Linked DNA regions of Homo sapiens. The protein of the gene in region 1 purifies or fractionates together with the protein of each later gene. This does not show direct contact. Each region holds a gene or a part of one and is shown on either strand. Other genes may lie near its edges.

Region 1 (8,037 bases):
GGCCTCCCAAAGTGCTGGGATTACAGGTGTGAGCCACTGCACAAGCGATCCTCCTGCCTTGGCCTCCCAAAGTGCTGGGATTGCAGGTGTGAGCCGCTGCACCTGGCCTTATGGACGCTTGTTGTAGTTGCCTGGTCTTTCATGTTTACAGTATTTTGACTGAATGGCTCAAAAGTGTCTTGCCTCCCCAATGGCTGAGATGAAGACCTGTGGCCCTTCCAAGCTTCTCCCTGTTCTTCGTGCTACATGTGCTGTGCTGGGGACAGGAATGACCATGACAGGGCCCGGTGTCTTGCAGACTATGATGCTGTGCTGACAGAAGCCGGCGATTACACGGCCAAGTACATGAAGCTTCGAGACTTCTTCGGCTCCATCTCAGGTACCCAGCAGACAGCAGACTCAAGTTCCAACTCAGGCCCTCGCTTCTGCTCTCAGACCCCTAAAGAGTTACTTCCTTACTGTCCCACCTCGACCCCAGTTGATCTGCGTGCAAGAATATCCTAGACAAGGACAGGGAGGTGTGTGAGGCTGTTTCCATCTTGCCGGCTTCACCTGTTACAGGTGTTAACGCTCCTTATCTCCTGTGGAGGACGGGAGAACGCCCTGGCTTTCCCCCAGGCCTGGCCTTCCTCCCTGGCCTCAGCAGGTGCTGAGAGCTAGCCTGTTGTTCCTCTTGGTGCTGGGACGCAGGAGCACATCGGGTCTGTGGATGGGAGCCGGGTGGGGAGGACGAGCAGGCAGTGACATTTGGGTCCGTTGGGGGTGACCCTGTTTTCTGTGTTGCAGGCATCCCTCTCCCTCCCCCACCTGACCTTCTTCCCAAGATGCCGTATGAGCCCTTAACGCCAGTCTTGTACCTGTCTCTGTGGGACGCCCTCAAGTACCTGGGGGAGGTGAGTGCTGTGGGCAGTCATCGGGAGGTGAGTGAGTGCCGGGGGCAGTCGTTGGCAGGGAGGTGAGTGCTGGGGGCAGTCGTCGGCGGGAGGTGAGAGTCGTCGGGGCAGCAGGGCCTGGAGCCCCTCCAGACAGGGAGTGTGGGGGGAGGCAGGCCAGTGCCTGGTGGCTCTGGGGTCTGCTCTCCGGCCTTGGAGCTCAGAGGGAAGAGGACAGACTCATGCTGGAGTGTGAAGTGGGAGAAACAGAGGTCCCTGAGGAACAGCGGCTGGCCCCGTGGGCCTTTCCTTCCTCCAGCCTCAGAGAGGAGAGTGAGGGGCAGAGGAACAGGCCGTCCCCTCCCCAAGAAGGGGGTGCCTCCTCCGGCGGACTGAGGCTGTGATGTGTGTCCCCTGCCTGCGGACTGCACTCTGCTGGTGCACACCCCTTTGCCCCACTCCTCTTCCCCGTCACCCTGGAGAGTTGTATGTTTAGTGCAATGAGAAGTCAAAGTAGAAAACACCCACCAAACCTCCGCTTCCACCCCATGTGCCAGCCCCCAGGCAGAGTCTGTCTGTGACCCCACTCCTCCTGAGCCTGCCCACCCCTCCATCTCTTCTGTACGCAGCCAATCAAGTCTGAAAAGCCCATCAACATGGAGAACCTGCCAGTCAATGGGGGAAATGGACAGTCCTTCGGGTACATTCTCTATGAGACCAGCATCACCTCGTCTGGCATCCTCAGTGGCCACGTGCATGATCGGGGGCAGGTAGGAGCTTCTCTTCTAAATTCCTGTGACCTTCTGGTGAGCAGCTCTGCAATAGGCGTCTCATGCCCTCCCCTCAGAATCAGCTCTTACCAGTGTGTGACAATGGCCCTTCTGAGTCAGCTCTGTGAGCCTTCAGGGGGCATTCATGTCTGCTCTGCCCACTGGCCCCTCGTCTGCCTACAGGCACGCGTGCTGCCCTTCTTGGCCTGGAGGAGGTCCCGCTTACCCTCCTCCTGTTGGTCATGGATGTTCCTGCCTGTTCCCTTTGGCAGGTGTTTGTGAACACAGTATCCATAGGATTCTTGGACTACAAGACAACGAAGATTGCTGTCCCCCTGATCCAGGTTCGTTGTTTTTGGGAGCTGGGTGATGGCTAGCCCCCGCTGCTTCGAGGAAGTCTGGGGGCAGTCACTGAGGAAAACCTGGGAGACCCGTGGCTCCTTACCCACAAGCTGTAGGTGGAGAGGGCGAGTGTGGCTTTCTGCCCAGCTGGGATGTACACTCCCATCCCCAGAGCGTAGGGAAGAACTGGGGTCCACAAGCAAATTCTGAGGGGCAGCTGTGGCCTTCTGACAGTCATCGTTAGCCCCGTGTTCCCGGCAGGGTTACACCGTGCTGAGGATCTTGGTGGAGAATCGTGGGCGAGTCAACTATGGGGAGAATATTGATGACCAGCGCAAAGGTGGGTCCCAGAATGTGTCAAAAGAAGAGTGGCCATGCTGGACACACAGGTGGCTATTGCTTCTCTATGCTAGCAGGCCACCAGGCCATGGAGGCCTCTTGCAGGGAGGTGGAGGCTGGGTTGTCCCATACATGAGGCCAGTTCTGAGTGGGCCAGAGAAACTCCGCTGGGCTGTGGCCCCTGTCCTGTTAGCACTGCACGCGTGCATCGTCTGCGTGCTCGTGATAAACACTGTGAACACTGAGCTGGCCTCTTGTCTCCCCTGGGCTGCAGTCGGTTTCTGCAAGGATGTCTGCTTGGGGGGGCGGCAGTGAGGAGCAATGAATGTGATTTCCAGGAATCCAAGGAAAGGCACAAGACCCCTGCCTTCTTGGGCCTCCACACTGAAGTTCTCTTCTTGATCCATCTTGGGAAAGCTTATCTCAGATGTTGGGGGAGGAGGATGCGGGACATACAGCAAACAAAACACCTGTTGGTAGCGTACCCCTCTGGGAATAGGCCGCCAATTTGCTTTATGTTTCCTGGCCTACTAAATCTTTTATGCTTTAATTTAGCCCTTCCTTTTTTTTTTTGAGACGGAGTCTCGCTCTTTCACCCAGGCCAGACTGCAGTGGTGCAATCTCGGCTCACTGCATGCTCCACCTCCCGGGTTCATGCCATTCTCCTGCCTCAGCCTCCCGAGTAGCTGGGACTACAGGCGCCCGCCACCGTGCCCAAATTTAGCCCTTCCTTTTTAAAAAAAATCTAGCTAAATGTGGGTGGTTTCAGGTAAGTTATAAAAAAAGAACTCAGAACAAAATGAATGCGACTGTGGTGAGCAGCACCGGTGACCTCCCAGCTCTCTCACGGTGTCTGCGTTTGTGACGGAGGAAACTTGAAGAGCTCTTATTGGTCCACATTTCCTCCGAGAGCCGTCTGGTGGCCTGCCAGGAAAGCCACGTGGCCCAGACACTGGGGCCTGGATCCTGGGGATCAGGGCCCTTCTAGATGGGCCTCAGAGCGGCATCTAGCACCACCCAGGCCCACACTCCTTTACCCTAGACAGCTCCCTCTCTGGGCCTGTCCTCACTTCTGTTGTTCTCCTGGGAGTTGGAAGGAGCACCAGCCTGACCATTGTTCCTAACTTTGCTTCCCTGAGCCCTTGTTGAGGGTCCCCTGGGCCCACACTGTGGAGTCCTGTCCTCTGGATCACAGTTCAATGTTTATAAGTCACAGACCTCCCTTGAGAAATGCGCGTGCCCACATAGACCCGCACCTGCCATTTCGGAGTCTGTAGGCCCTGCAAAGCCTCTCCACAGTCCTCGGCCTCCAAATTCCCAAGCTAGCCACTCAGCAGCTCTGTAATCTGAGACTGGCAGGGCTGGCCCGGCCCCGGGACACTGATGAGTGGCTCCTCAAGAGGACACATCTCTTCCCTGTTGGATGCCCGAGGGAGGGTGCCATCTGCTCACAGTCCAAACACTCCTAATGCACAGCTTTAATCCTAGGTGGCAGAGATGATTCTGGCTGAGTTATTAGGTCTGTGTAGCTTGGGCCCCACTGAAACTGGCCCTGCAGCTAGGCCAGAACCCTCTCGGTCATCTGGAACTTCCTTCAGAGAGAGGCCAGAGGTTGTTCTCGCCCTGTAACACCTCAGCTCTATATCCTTCCCATGGCAAATCTTAGGGTCTTCCTCCTTCCCGTCCCCCACAGAATTGCTAGGGAGCTTTGCTTGCAAGCGAACGGCTTCCCAGGGAGCGTACACTTCAGTACCCCTCACCCCAGCTTCTCAGGGAGCGTACACTTCAGCACCCCTCACCCCAGCTTCCCAGGGCTTCCCCTCGTGGCCCCGGCCCAGCTGACTCGGCCCCTGCCTTTGGGCTACCCACGTGTCCTGCCTCCCTCCCACAGGCTTAATTGGAAATCTCTATCTGAATGATTCACCCCTGAAAAACTTCAGAATCTATAGCCTGGATATGAAGAAGAGCTTCTTTCAGAGGTGGGTCCCTGCCCAGCACCAGCCCTTGCACTCACAGGTATAGTGCTGTGTGGTGGGGCCCAGGGGTCCCTGGTGCACCGTGGCCTGGCCCGCACCCAGGTGTGAACGCCTCCAGGGGCCAGATCGGCTGGCCGAGGTGAGGGGTGGCACCCGCACTAGAAGCCGCATTTGCAGACTAGGAATTCCCAGCATCCTACCGTGCTGCCATTCTGTGTCCTGGTTAAGAGGCGGGGGGCCTTGGATGGGGAAACGGTGTCAGGGCCTTTTATTTTGCTTTATTGTGCTGGTGGATTGAGAAGGGCCTCCTCCCTCTCCTTCTCTGTGTTCTGTCCTTAGGTTCGGCCTGGACAAATGGAGTTCCCTCCCAGAAACACCCACATTACCTGCTTTCTTCTTGGGTAGCTTGTCCATCAGCTCCACCCCTTGTGACACCTTTCTGAAGCTGGAGGTTGGTAACGCCCTTTTCCCTGCCAGTTTCTCCCACCTGCCTCCCGCCTTGGAGGGCTCTGAGCCAAAGCCACGAGCTTGGCGAGAGTCGTTGGTGGCTTCTGTGCCCAGAGGGTCTGAGAGGGCCGCTGGGGCCTCCCTGGGCCAGAGGAGTGGGTTCCCAGCAGAAGAAACACCTCATGCACTAGGGGGACAGGAAATAGAGCATCCCACCTGCCCACCCTCATGGCTGTCCAGACACAGCTCGCTTTGGTCTCCTGGACCTGAGAGAAGCACGCATGCATGTCTCCCTCCACTTTTGCTGTGGCTCTCGTGGTAGATGAACACCCTTCCCCTCTGTTTCAAGGGCTGGGAGAAGGGGGTTGTATTCATCAATGGCCAGAACCTTGGACGTTACTGGAACATTGGACCCCAGAAGACGCTTTACCTCCCAGGTCCCTGGTTGAGCAGCGGAATCAACCAGGTGGGAGCTTCCAGCCCCTTCCTGTTCCCCATGACGCCCTGCCCACCTGCCGTCCCAGGGAGCCTTCGGTCAGGGTGGAGGGGCGTGTCAGCGGGTTCTTCCTCCCTCCTCCTCGCTGCAGACGAGTTGTTGGTCCCTGTCCCTTCCAGCCTGGTTCCCAAACCCTTTCCTTCTGACCCTGCCACCTCTCAGCACCTCCCCTGGCTCCAGGACAGACGTCAGCTGCCCTCCCAGCCGGGCCCTCTCTCCACAGGTCATCGTTTTTGAGGAGACGATGGCGGGCCCTGCATTACAGTTCACGGAAACCCCCCACCTGGGCAGGAACCAGTACATTAAGTGAGCGGTGGCACCCCCTCCTGCTGGTGCCAGTGGGAGACTGCCGCCTCCTCTTGACCTGAAGCCTGGTGGCTGCTGCCCCACCCCTCACTGCAAAAGCATCTCCTTAAGTAGCAACCTCAGGGACTGGGGGCTACAGTCTGCCCCTGTCTCAGCTCAAAACCCTAAGCCTGCAGGGAAAGGTGGGATGGCTCTGGGCCTGGCTTTGTTGATGATGGCTTTCCTACAGCCCTGCTCTTGTGCCGAGGCTGTCGGGCTGTCTCTAGGGTGGGAGCAGCTAATCAGATCGCCCAGCCTTTGGCCCTCAGAAAAAGTGCTGAAACGTGCCCTTGCACTGGACGTCACAGCCCTGCGAGCATCTGCTGGACTCAGGCGTGCTCTTTGCTGGTTCCTGGGAGGCTTGGCCACATCCCTCATGGCCCCATTTTATCCCCGAAATCCTGGGTGTGTCACCAGTGTAGAGGGTGGGGAAGGGGTGTCTCACCTGAGCTGACTTTGTTCTTCCTTCACAACCTTCTGAGCCTTCTTTGGGATTCTGGAAGGAACTCGGCGTGAGAAACATGTGACTTCCCCTTTCCCTTCCCACTCGCTGCTTCCCACAGGGTGACAGGCTGGGCTGGAGAAACAGAAATCCTCACCCTGCGTCTTCCCAAGTTAGCAGGTGTCTCTGGTGTTCAGTGAGGAGGACATGTGAGTCCTGGCAGAAGCCATGGCCCATGTCTGCACATCCAGGGAGGAGGACAGAAGGCCCAGCTCACATGTGAGTCCTGGCAGAAGCCATGGCCCATGTCTGCACATCCAGGGAGGAGGACAGAAGGCCCAGCTCACATGTGAGTCCTGGCAGAAGCCATGGCCCATGTCTGCACATCCAGGGAGGAGGACAGAAGGCCCAGCTCACATGTGAGTCCTGGCAGAAGCCATGGCCCATGTCTGCACATCCAGGGAGGAGGACAGAAGGCCCAGCTCACATGTGAGTCCTGGCAGAAGCCATGGCCCATGTCTGCACATCCAGGGAGGAGGACAGAAGGCCCAGCTCACATGTGAGTCCTGGCAGAAGCCATGGCCCATGTCTGCACATCCAGGGAGGAGGACAGAAGGCCCAGCTCAGTGGCCCCCGCCCCCCACCCCCCACGCCCGAACAGCAGGGGCAGAGCAGCCCTCCTTCGAAGTGTGTCCAAGTCCGCATTTGAGCCTTGTTCTGGGGCCCAGCCCAACACCTGGCTTGGGCTCACTGTCCTGAGTTGCAGTAAAGCTATAACCTTGAATCACACCCCCTCTGGTGATAGTCTCTGGTCATGTGTGCCACTCTTGCCAGAAGGGAAGGCTGTCTGAGAGCTTGGTTTTCTTGGTCAGGTTCCCATTGGGCCCCACTTGCCGCCTGGGGGTCCAGATGGGGACCGTCCCTGGGGTGGGTGGGCCATGATCCTGGCCTCATATTCCCCTCCTGACCCCGACTTCCCTTCAAATGTCTCTGGATTGGAAGTGCCCTGGAGAGGACAGTTCAAATGCAAATTCATTCTCATGCTGGTGGGCGGGGGTAAGAATCTGCCAGGCAGTCAAGGGCGCTCCATATGAGTTAACTGCGGGGTTGAGTTTTGCTTCACAAACTACATCTGGCATCTACTGCCAAAACCAAATTATCTCCAGTAAGAGTCAGAAAGTCAAGTAGCACACACATCCCCGGCACAGCGAGAGCTCTGGGAGCCCCGTGAAGGTGGGCTGGGGGATGGTGAGCCGTGGAGCTCACTGAGGCCAGCAGGCTTGCTGCCCGTGTGTGGCTGCCCAGGGGGAGTGCAGGGGACATTCGTGGTGTGCAGCCCAGCAGCTGAGCCGGGTCAAGGGCTTATTAAATGGAGCTTATTAAAGGAAAGCTTGTGGACAGTGGCTTGGGAACAACATGGGGCAGAGTCCCTGGTTTTGCCCAAACTCACCAGTTCTTCTGGAACTGCCTCGGAACGACAAGCATGGGGCTAAGATGTGGATGAGACTCGGGCTACTTGGGTGTGGCCTGAGCCACCTGCAGGGTCTTCTGCCCCGCTTTACCTGAGTGTGTGCTTCTGCAGAGCTGTGTATGAGCTGGTTCCGTCAGAAAGTGATGGAATGGAAGGGAACCTTCCTGCAAATCCTCCTGTAAGGTGGAGAAGCCCCTTGGATCACACTTCCACGCAGACCTGAGCAGGACACACTGTGGTTTCCTAAGGTGAGGTCTTCCTACACCAGCTTCTTATTCTCACCCTTATTTTCTGCCAGTTAATTGCTCAGCTTCTCTATCAAAGTACCTCTTGGCAGAGCTTATTCTCCAGCGTTGACTAAAGATGTTTCCATTATCTTCCACACGGTATGGCCTCATCTAGGTCTCTTTGGAGAATCCCTCTTCATATCCAGCCTCTGAATGCTGGGGGTCTCTGGCCCACTCCTTGGGCTGTTTCTTTCCTCTGTCCACACTCACTGCATAGGGTCTCACCCGTGCACCTGTGGTTTGTAAACAG
Region 2 (7,600 bases), on another chromosome or scaffold:
GCATGAGCTGATGTTTCCAGCCTAATTTTTTAATCAACAAATATTTCTGAGCCACTCCCCTCCATGTATAAAACATGGCTCTAGGTGCAGAGGTTTTGTTTTGTTTTGTTTTTAAGCATGAGACTCAGTTCCCCATTGCAAGAAGCTTGAACTAACAGTGTAGAAGGCAAGTTGACAATTACAAAACAAGATGATCCACCTGTAAGAAAGGAGTGAAAAGGGTACTGTAAAAATACAAAGGAGGAAGCAATCAGCGCTACCCCAGGACCTGGTAAGGAAGAGGGGCTGTCAGGCAAGGTTACAAAGAGAAGGCAACATGTAAGTTTTACAGAGGAATCCACAAGGAAAATTTTAAGGATAATAATAAATGTTAAGGCACCATCACAATCACACACACAAAAAGCCCTGAAAAAAAAAAAGTCAGAGAAAGAGGAAGTTCTTCACCCAAGGGCAAACAGCAAGAGGAAAGGAGCTGGAAGCAACCCAGACTCTTGTCATCCAGCTCAAGGAGATTTTTTAGCTGAAATAAAACATCGCATAATATTTACACCCTTCCCCACCTGAGCTTGGGCTACATGCTCTACAAAGCAAATTAAACATCACCTGCCTGTCCTCTAAAAGTCTACAATCTAAAAACAGGCACACTAATAAATGAACAAATTCAAGAACTTTGATGACGAACTATCACCCAAAGACAGTGTTCTGAAACAAACACTTCTCAAGTTCAGTTTGGCCCCCAAAATGAGGATAATAAATTTTTGCCCTTCCCTTTGGAGATGTTAAATACCAAGGGGAAATATTAAAATTGCATGGACGGGTTCCTTAAAAGATTATAAATAGAATTACTATGTGATCCAGCAATTTCACATCTAGGTATATGTCCAAAAGAAGTGAAAGCAAGGTCTCAAGGAGATATCTGCCCACCCATGTTCACAGCAGCATTATTCACAATAGGCAAGAGTAGAAGCAACCCAAGTGTCCATAGACAGATGGAGGGAGAGGGAATGGAGAGTTAGTGTTTAGTGGACACAGTGCTTGTGTTTTGGAAGATGAAAAACGTCCATCTTTTTCATGATGATGGGGAGGGATGATGGTGATGGCTGCACAGCAATGTGAATGTGCTTATGCCACTGAACTGTATGTACACTTAAAAATGGTTAAAATGGTAAAATTTATGTCACATATATTTGAGCAAATAATACACATATACAAAGAAAGTTAATAAAAGAATTTGTGATTATGTTCAAATAGGGTGCATGTATCTAGCCCTAATTTAGCAAGTTTGAAGAAGGGAGAGATTACTGTGGAGTGGAGTGTTCCAGGACGAAGACACAGCCTCGAACCCAAGTTCTGATGGAAAACACTCCAAATCTGGGAGAAATGGTCAGGACTCAGTAAGCAGAAGTGGACAAACTTAGTTTAAGTAGAGGGTTTGTGATGGAAAGTGGTAAAAGAGTAGAAAAAAAGAGACTGGTGCCAGAATAGAATGGCTCCTTAAAAGCCAACTTTATGAGTTTGGATTTCTACCTCTACCCAGAGAAGAACCACTGGTGGCTTTTGAGAAGGGGTGTTATATGATGAACACAGTGGTTCAGTGTGGGATGGTTTGGAGAGGGAGATCCTTAGTTGATAGAAAGTGGACTCCAGGTCGCTTAACTTGAGGGCTACCAAGGTGACTACAAAGTCTACTAAATCTGAAACCTAACACGTGGTGCTGCTAGCTTAAAGCTATGACTTTAAAATGTATCAGGCCAAATGCTTGCACATGAATGGAATTCTTCTCAAAGCATACACAGAAACTGTTGACAGTGGTACCTTCTTAGAAATAGGGCTGAAGTTAGGAGAAGACTTTTACTCTTCATTGTATACCCTTGTATAATATGGATATATGTTTTAACCACGTACATGAGTTTATTTTATAATTTAAAAAGTTTTTTAAATATGACAACCAGGAAGCATCAAAAAATATTTGGGCTTTAACCAGCCAATTCAAAACATTTCTAAAAATAAAGTGAAATATATTTCAATCTTGTTTCTCCCATATCTTAATCTCCATCACATAGTATAAACGTTGTGGGACTGATCTAAAAGTAACAGTACAAAGTACACAGCACATCTAAAGCTTCGCTTCAAACAGATGTCATGAATCATCCCAAAATAAAAACATCTCCTTTTTGGTGTATTTAAATGAAAAGTCTGCCAAGACTATTCCAAGTCAACACCTCGACAAAAACAGAAATTAAAAAAAAATAGCCCATGGTACATTTGATAAAATACATCACCATCTCAGTAAACGACCTTTTTGTTCATCCAGTTGTTCAGGCCAAAAACAATGGAATCATCTTATTCTTTTTCTCTCATCCTCTATATCCAAATCTCATAATCTCTATACTCAGAACCCAACTGCATCTCACCAGGACTATCATCCTGATCCATCCTCTCGTCCTGAACCACCGCAGTAGCTTTCATGGGACTCCTTGCCTCCACTCTTGTGCCCCACAATCAATCCTCCTTAGGGCCGCCAGAAAGATCTGCTTGAGACACAAATCCCAACAAGTCACTCCCCTGCCCACAACTTCCAGTGGCTTCCTATGACACTTGGACTAAAACTCAAAGGTCACAAAGCCTGCACCATCAAGACCCGCTTTTCTCTCCAGCACTGTGGTTAGCTCTCCCCATGACACCCTGCACTCAGGCCACACTGGCCTCTTTGCTATTGCTTGGACACAGCAGTGGCCCCACGTTGGGGGCTTCCCATTTGGTATGGTTTGTCTGTGTCCCCACCCAAATCTCATCTTGAATTGCGGCTCCCATAATCCCTGCATGTCGTGGGAGGGACCCGGTGGGAGGTAACTGAATCACGGGGGTGGGTTTTCCTGTGCTGTTCTCGTGATAGTGAAGAAGTCTCATGAGATTTGATGGTTTTATAAAGGGCAGTTCCCCTGAACATGCGCCTGCCACCATGTATGACATGCCTTTGCTCCTCCTTTGCCTTCTGCCATGATTGTGAGTCATCCCCAGCCATGCTGAACTGTGATTCAATTAAACCTCTTTCCTTTATAAATTACTCAGTCTCTGGTATGTCTTTATTAGGAGTGTGAGAACAGACTACCACTCAACCTGAATCTCTTCTCCCAAACATCCCATGCCTCTCTCCCCACTTCATTTGAGTCTCAGCCCAAATGAAGCCCCATCAGATAGTGTTTTCCCAACCACCCTACCTGAAATAGTAGAACCACCCTTCTTTCCCTTCATATTGCTTTATTTTTCTTTTTAGCACTTGAAATTACAATATATATTTTTGTCTGTTGCTTGTCATTTAGTTCCTCTCTCCCCCAACTACAATGTGCACTCTACGACTTCAGACATTTTTGCCACATTCACTGTTACATTCCCTGGGCCTACAGCATGTCTGGCAAATTAAATGAGAACTCAGTAAATATTTGTTGAAGACTGACATACAAATCAAGGCCCTCAAGATCACTGGACAAAAAGAGGCTGCTGAAGTCCAAAATGAAGCATAAGCACAATAATGCCCAGTAAATTTGGGGTAAAGGAATGAAAAACCCAAAACATCAATTAACGGGCAGATGAACCCTTCATTTATCTATGGCATGCTACTGAGAATCCATTAATTCATGCTTTGGAACAGCATCTGTGCATACTCTGGAGGGCCATTCTTGAGGTTCTGTGGCTATGGTAAAGGGTAATACCATTAACAAGTGTCTTCTCTCCAGAACCAATGAACTTATGTGGAATATTCTGCTGAAGAAAAAAAGCAACCGCGGTCTCAACCAGAAGGCCCAGAATATTCAATTACTCCACTGAGAAGACCTGGAAACAGCCCCAGCCTCAGAACTAGGCAACTGGGTCAAAGTCAGGTTTTGGAATAAACTACTAGAGGGACATTGAGTATATAAATGTACATTTCTAATCCTGTTTTGTAACTGGAAACCAGGAATAATCAGATCTTCCCTTCACATGCTCATCATAAGATAAAATAAGATGATGTGTAGACAAAGGCATGCTGAAAATTGAGTGGACTATAGTTATCTGTGATCATCATCTTGTACTGGCTGGGATCTAATTCACTTTCTCTTCACTGCCACTGGTGAGCTTTGTCAACAAAGATTTCATCACACCCCTTTATGACTTAAAAACTTCCAGTGGCTCAAACTTCTTCACAGGCTGAACCCCAACCACCTTTCTGGTCACACTTCTGCCATGTGGAACTACACTTCATCCCCTAACCTAATCATGCTTTATTGTCTGTGCTGGGCAATTTCCTAAAGCCCCACTCGCAGGCCCCCTCATCCTCCCTTCTTCCATTATAGAAATCCTAGGCACTTTCAAAGGTCTTCTCATTCCCCAACCTGAATGAGATGTTTCCTCCTGTACACCCTCTCTCTCAGGCATCCTGTTGAATCACTGCTTGTTTGCAAGGCCATTTTCGCACCAGATCAGTGATTCTCCATCTGATCTCTTTGTGTGTCTTCAGCACATAACAGTGTAAGACACGTGGTAGACACCCAATGTCTGCTCTTTTTGAATACACCTCAATTCTCTCTCGGGCCTTTCTACCTCTAACTCTCTATGACTTATGACTCGAAGTCAGTATTATGAAAGGCCTTTTCTTGCTTTTCCACCCTTCTGGAAATATACTGGAAGATGAAGCTAATTGACCACTCCTAGGGTTCTTCTAGAAACAGGCTGGGACTCAAAAGAGGGACAGAATAAGGTTACAGACTTCTTTCTGGTCCACATAATTTATGCCTTTAAAGTATGCTTTGTTTTATTTGAATTGCTATACATTCTCAAGTGAGACACGCCCATATTTAAGTCTGGTACAAATGGAAAATATTTTCAAAGTATTCATTTTCGGAATTATTCAAGTTTCTTCTCCTTTTCACAATGGTGGAAACTCCTAAATTGACTATAATTCGAAGCAATTATTGTTCTTTAGCTATCAAGGTGCCGTTAGTCTCTTCATAAATATCCTGGATGATCTGAGCCTGGTTCAATGCAAAGCCTATTTTTTTTTCAGCCCTGTGCCTTTTCACTTGCTAAATTTATAACATTCAAATGAAAGAAAGGAAGCCCACTTTTGCCCCCACTGCTCACATGATATATGCTGAGTTTTAATTGCCCTTGTAATTCTACCCTCAGCCAGGTCTGCACAGGTATGATGTGGAAATAAAACATTATGGCAAAGCCTGAGAAGGGCTTGCTGAGGTAGGAAGAAGAGGGCTTTGTAATATTTCCTGCAACCAGGAAAAGGAAAGAGAAAAATGAAAGGTGGTCTGGGAATTTGATAAGCTAGCCAGACAATTCATTAAGGAAGCATTTTCTGTCTATGACCACCTCTAAGACTACGTGAGCTATAAAGGCTAGGGATCCCCTGATGGTTTGATATTCAGCTGAGGCTGGCTGAAAATGGAAGAATGTGGATCACTTGGCTGTGAATTAAGAAATACACGCAGCAACAGAGGGAAACACACTATGGCATTTTCTAAATATTTACCAAGGGGAGTTGGCAATCCGTGAGCAGAGCCAGATCTGACAGTTAATTCTCCTGACTGCCTCCTACGCTCTTCCTCAATCACTATCTCCATCTCCAAAACAGGTGACCTTCCCCTAATGGGGTGAAGAAGGAAGCATCTCTGTGATAAACCCAGCAAATGCCACATGATGATTCTGGCACACAGACCACTGCATCTACTCTTCTTCCTCAGATTTCTTATCTAAAACAGAGGAGTAACCTACGATCTGTCTGTTAAAATCAACTGAGTCAATACAAGCTGCTTCAAAGATAAAATTCTTCTTTCCACAGTCATTTTTGGCTTGTGATATCCATATGGTTTCAGAACCCAGTATCCATGAACTTCCTTGCCAGTCCTCATTATATAATCAAATTTCTCATCAGCCCACATAGCACAGTTATTTTCACTCTTGATCTTCCCAAGTTCATTGATAAATGTTAATCTGTAGGTCTCAGGTTATTTTTTTAAATTCTATAATTTTAAAATTCCATAACAAAGAAACATATTTTAAATCACTTTTTAATTAATTCATGAATTAGAGATGGCACCTCATTCTGTTGTCCAGGCTGGAGTACAGTGGCACAATCATAGTTCAGCCTCTCTAACTCCCTGGCTCAAGCAATCCTCCTCCCTTAGCCTCCGAAGTAACTGGGATTATAGGCATAAGCCACTATACCTGGCTTTTTTATATCAATTTTTTGTTTGTTTGTTTGAGACACAATCTCACTTTATTGTCCAGGCTGGAGTGCAGTGGCGCGATGTCGGTTCACTGCAACCTCTACCGCCCAGGTTCGAGCAATTTTCCTGTCTCAGCCTCCCGAGTAGCTGGGATTACAGGTGCCCACCACCACACCTGGCTAATTTTTGTATTTTTAGTAGAGATAGGTTTGGCCAGGCTGGTCTCGAACTCCTGAGACCAGCCTGACCAGCATGGTGAAACCCCATCTCTACTTTAAATCTCCCACTGGTCATGTTTCCTACCTTTTCAGGTCTTGAGCAGACAGTAAAATTTTGTGTTTGATTTTGAAATTAAAGTGCTGCTCTTCAAGAACAATTTGGTGATTGGGTTTAGGTTAAAACACGTATCTGACGGTCTCAACAGTTCTCTAAAGTCCTTCCCCATGCCCCCCAAAAATGGACATAATTACTTAAGATTTCTTGTCTCTAGATCGTAATGTGTATAACTATTGTTTTAAAATGTATACATGTGTACACCTTACAAGCAATGGGGGAGATTATAGAACAGTTTAGAGTTTAAAGCCTGAGACTGCCTTCTCTCCTGCTTATCCTCAGTACCTTTTCTTTAAGATTGCACTAAAATGAAAGGACTAGATATTAAAAACACATCCTCTCATAATCTCCTCCAAAGGAAATAAAATCTCAGTAGTTTGGTTAGGCAGAACTTCAGGAAGTAAACCATATTGGCCTTGAGAGTGAGACAGGAAAGAAATGAACTCGAGTAATAAGAAGTGTGGGTGCCATAGCTACACATCAATGATCAGGTACATTCAGTTAGGTCTTGCCTTTAAGCCAGTAAGTATGCACATGGAAGGCTGGGTTCAGTGACCTCCAGAATCCCTTCCCTCTCCAATAGTGTTTGCCTCATGAATTTTTTATAGCCATCCTCTGTCCTATCACACTGTCCCTATGTATCATCAAGCCCTCCTGGCCACTTCCAGGACTGAAAGGAAAATCTGTTCTTTAAAAAAAAAAAAAAAAATCCATGCTTTGACTCCTGCCAAAATTATAGTTCTGTCCTTGAAACAATGACCTGAAAATAATGGGTAAGGCTAAGAACCTCTGAGCAAATAAATGCCCAATATTATCTTCAGATAATATTTTTTAAGCTCCTCTGATATAAGCAGAACTATTACCTGAGGTCCTGGGAATGAAGATTATGAAGCTAGAAGACAAACAGTCAAATCTTCCCAACTTGTACTTTATATTCCCTGCTGAGTGTCTAACCTTAAAAAGAAGGTAGAACCAAACAAACTGAGTTTGAATCCTGGACCCATCTCTCATTAGCTGGGTAATATGAGGCAAGTTATTTAATCTTCCTG

Evidence for each region.
Region 2: the proteins of GLB1L2 (region 1) and SPTB purify together in Homo sapiens (affinity purification with mass spectrometry; 2 studies listed by BioGRID and IntAct, with this or other methods). This does not show direct contact.

Annotation. Positions count from the first base shown.
Region 1 is NC_000011.10:134,369,507-134,377,543, forward strand, and holds the end of GLB1L2 (beta-galactosidase-1-like protein 2 isoform b precursor), read left to right. Parts: intron 1-298; coding exon 299-379; intron 380-786; coding exon 787-893; intron 894-1,501; coding exon 1,502-1,642; intron 1,643-1,914; coding exon 1,915-1,986; intron 1,987-2,245; coding exon 2,246-2,324; intron 2,325-4,214; coding exon 4,215-4,302; intron 4,303-4,638; coding exon 4,639-4,750; intron 4,751-5,095; coding exon 5,096-5,212; intron 5,213-5,465; coding exon 5,466-5,552; 3' UTR 5,553-6,818; downstream 6,819-8,037.
Region 2 is NC_000014.9:64,869,908-64,877,507, forward strand, and holds part of SPTB (spectrin beta chain, erythrocytic), read right to left. Parts: intron 2,772-7,600; exon of another isoform or gene 2,415-2,771; intron 1-2,414.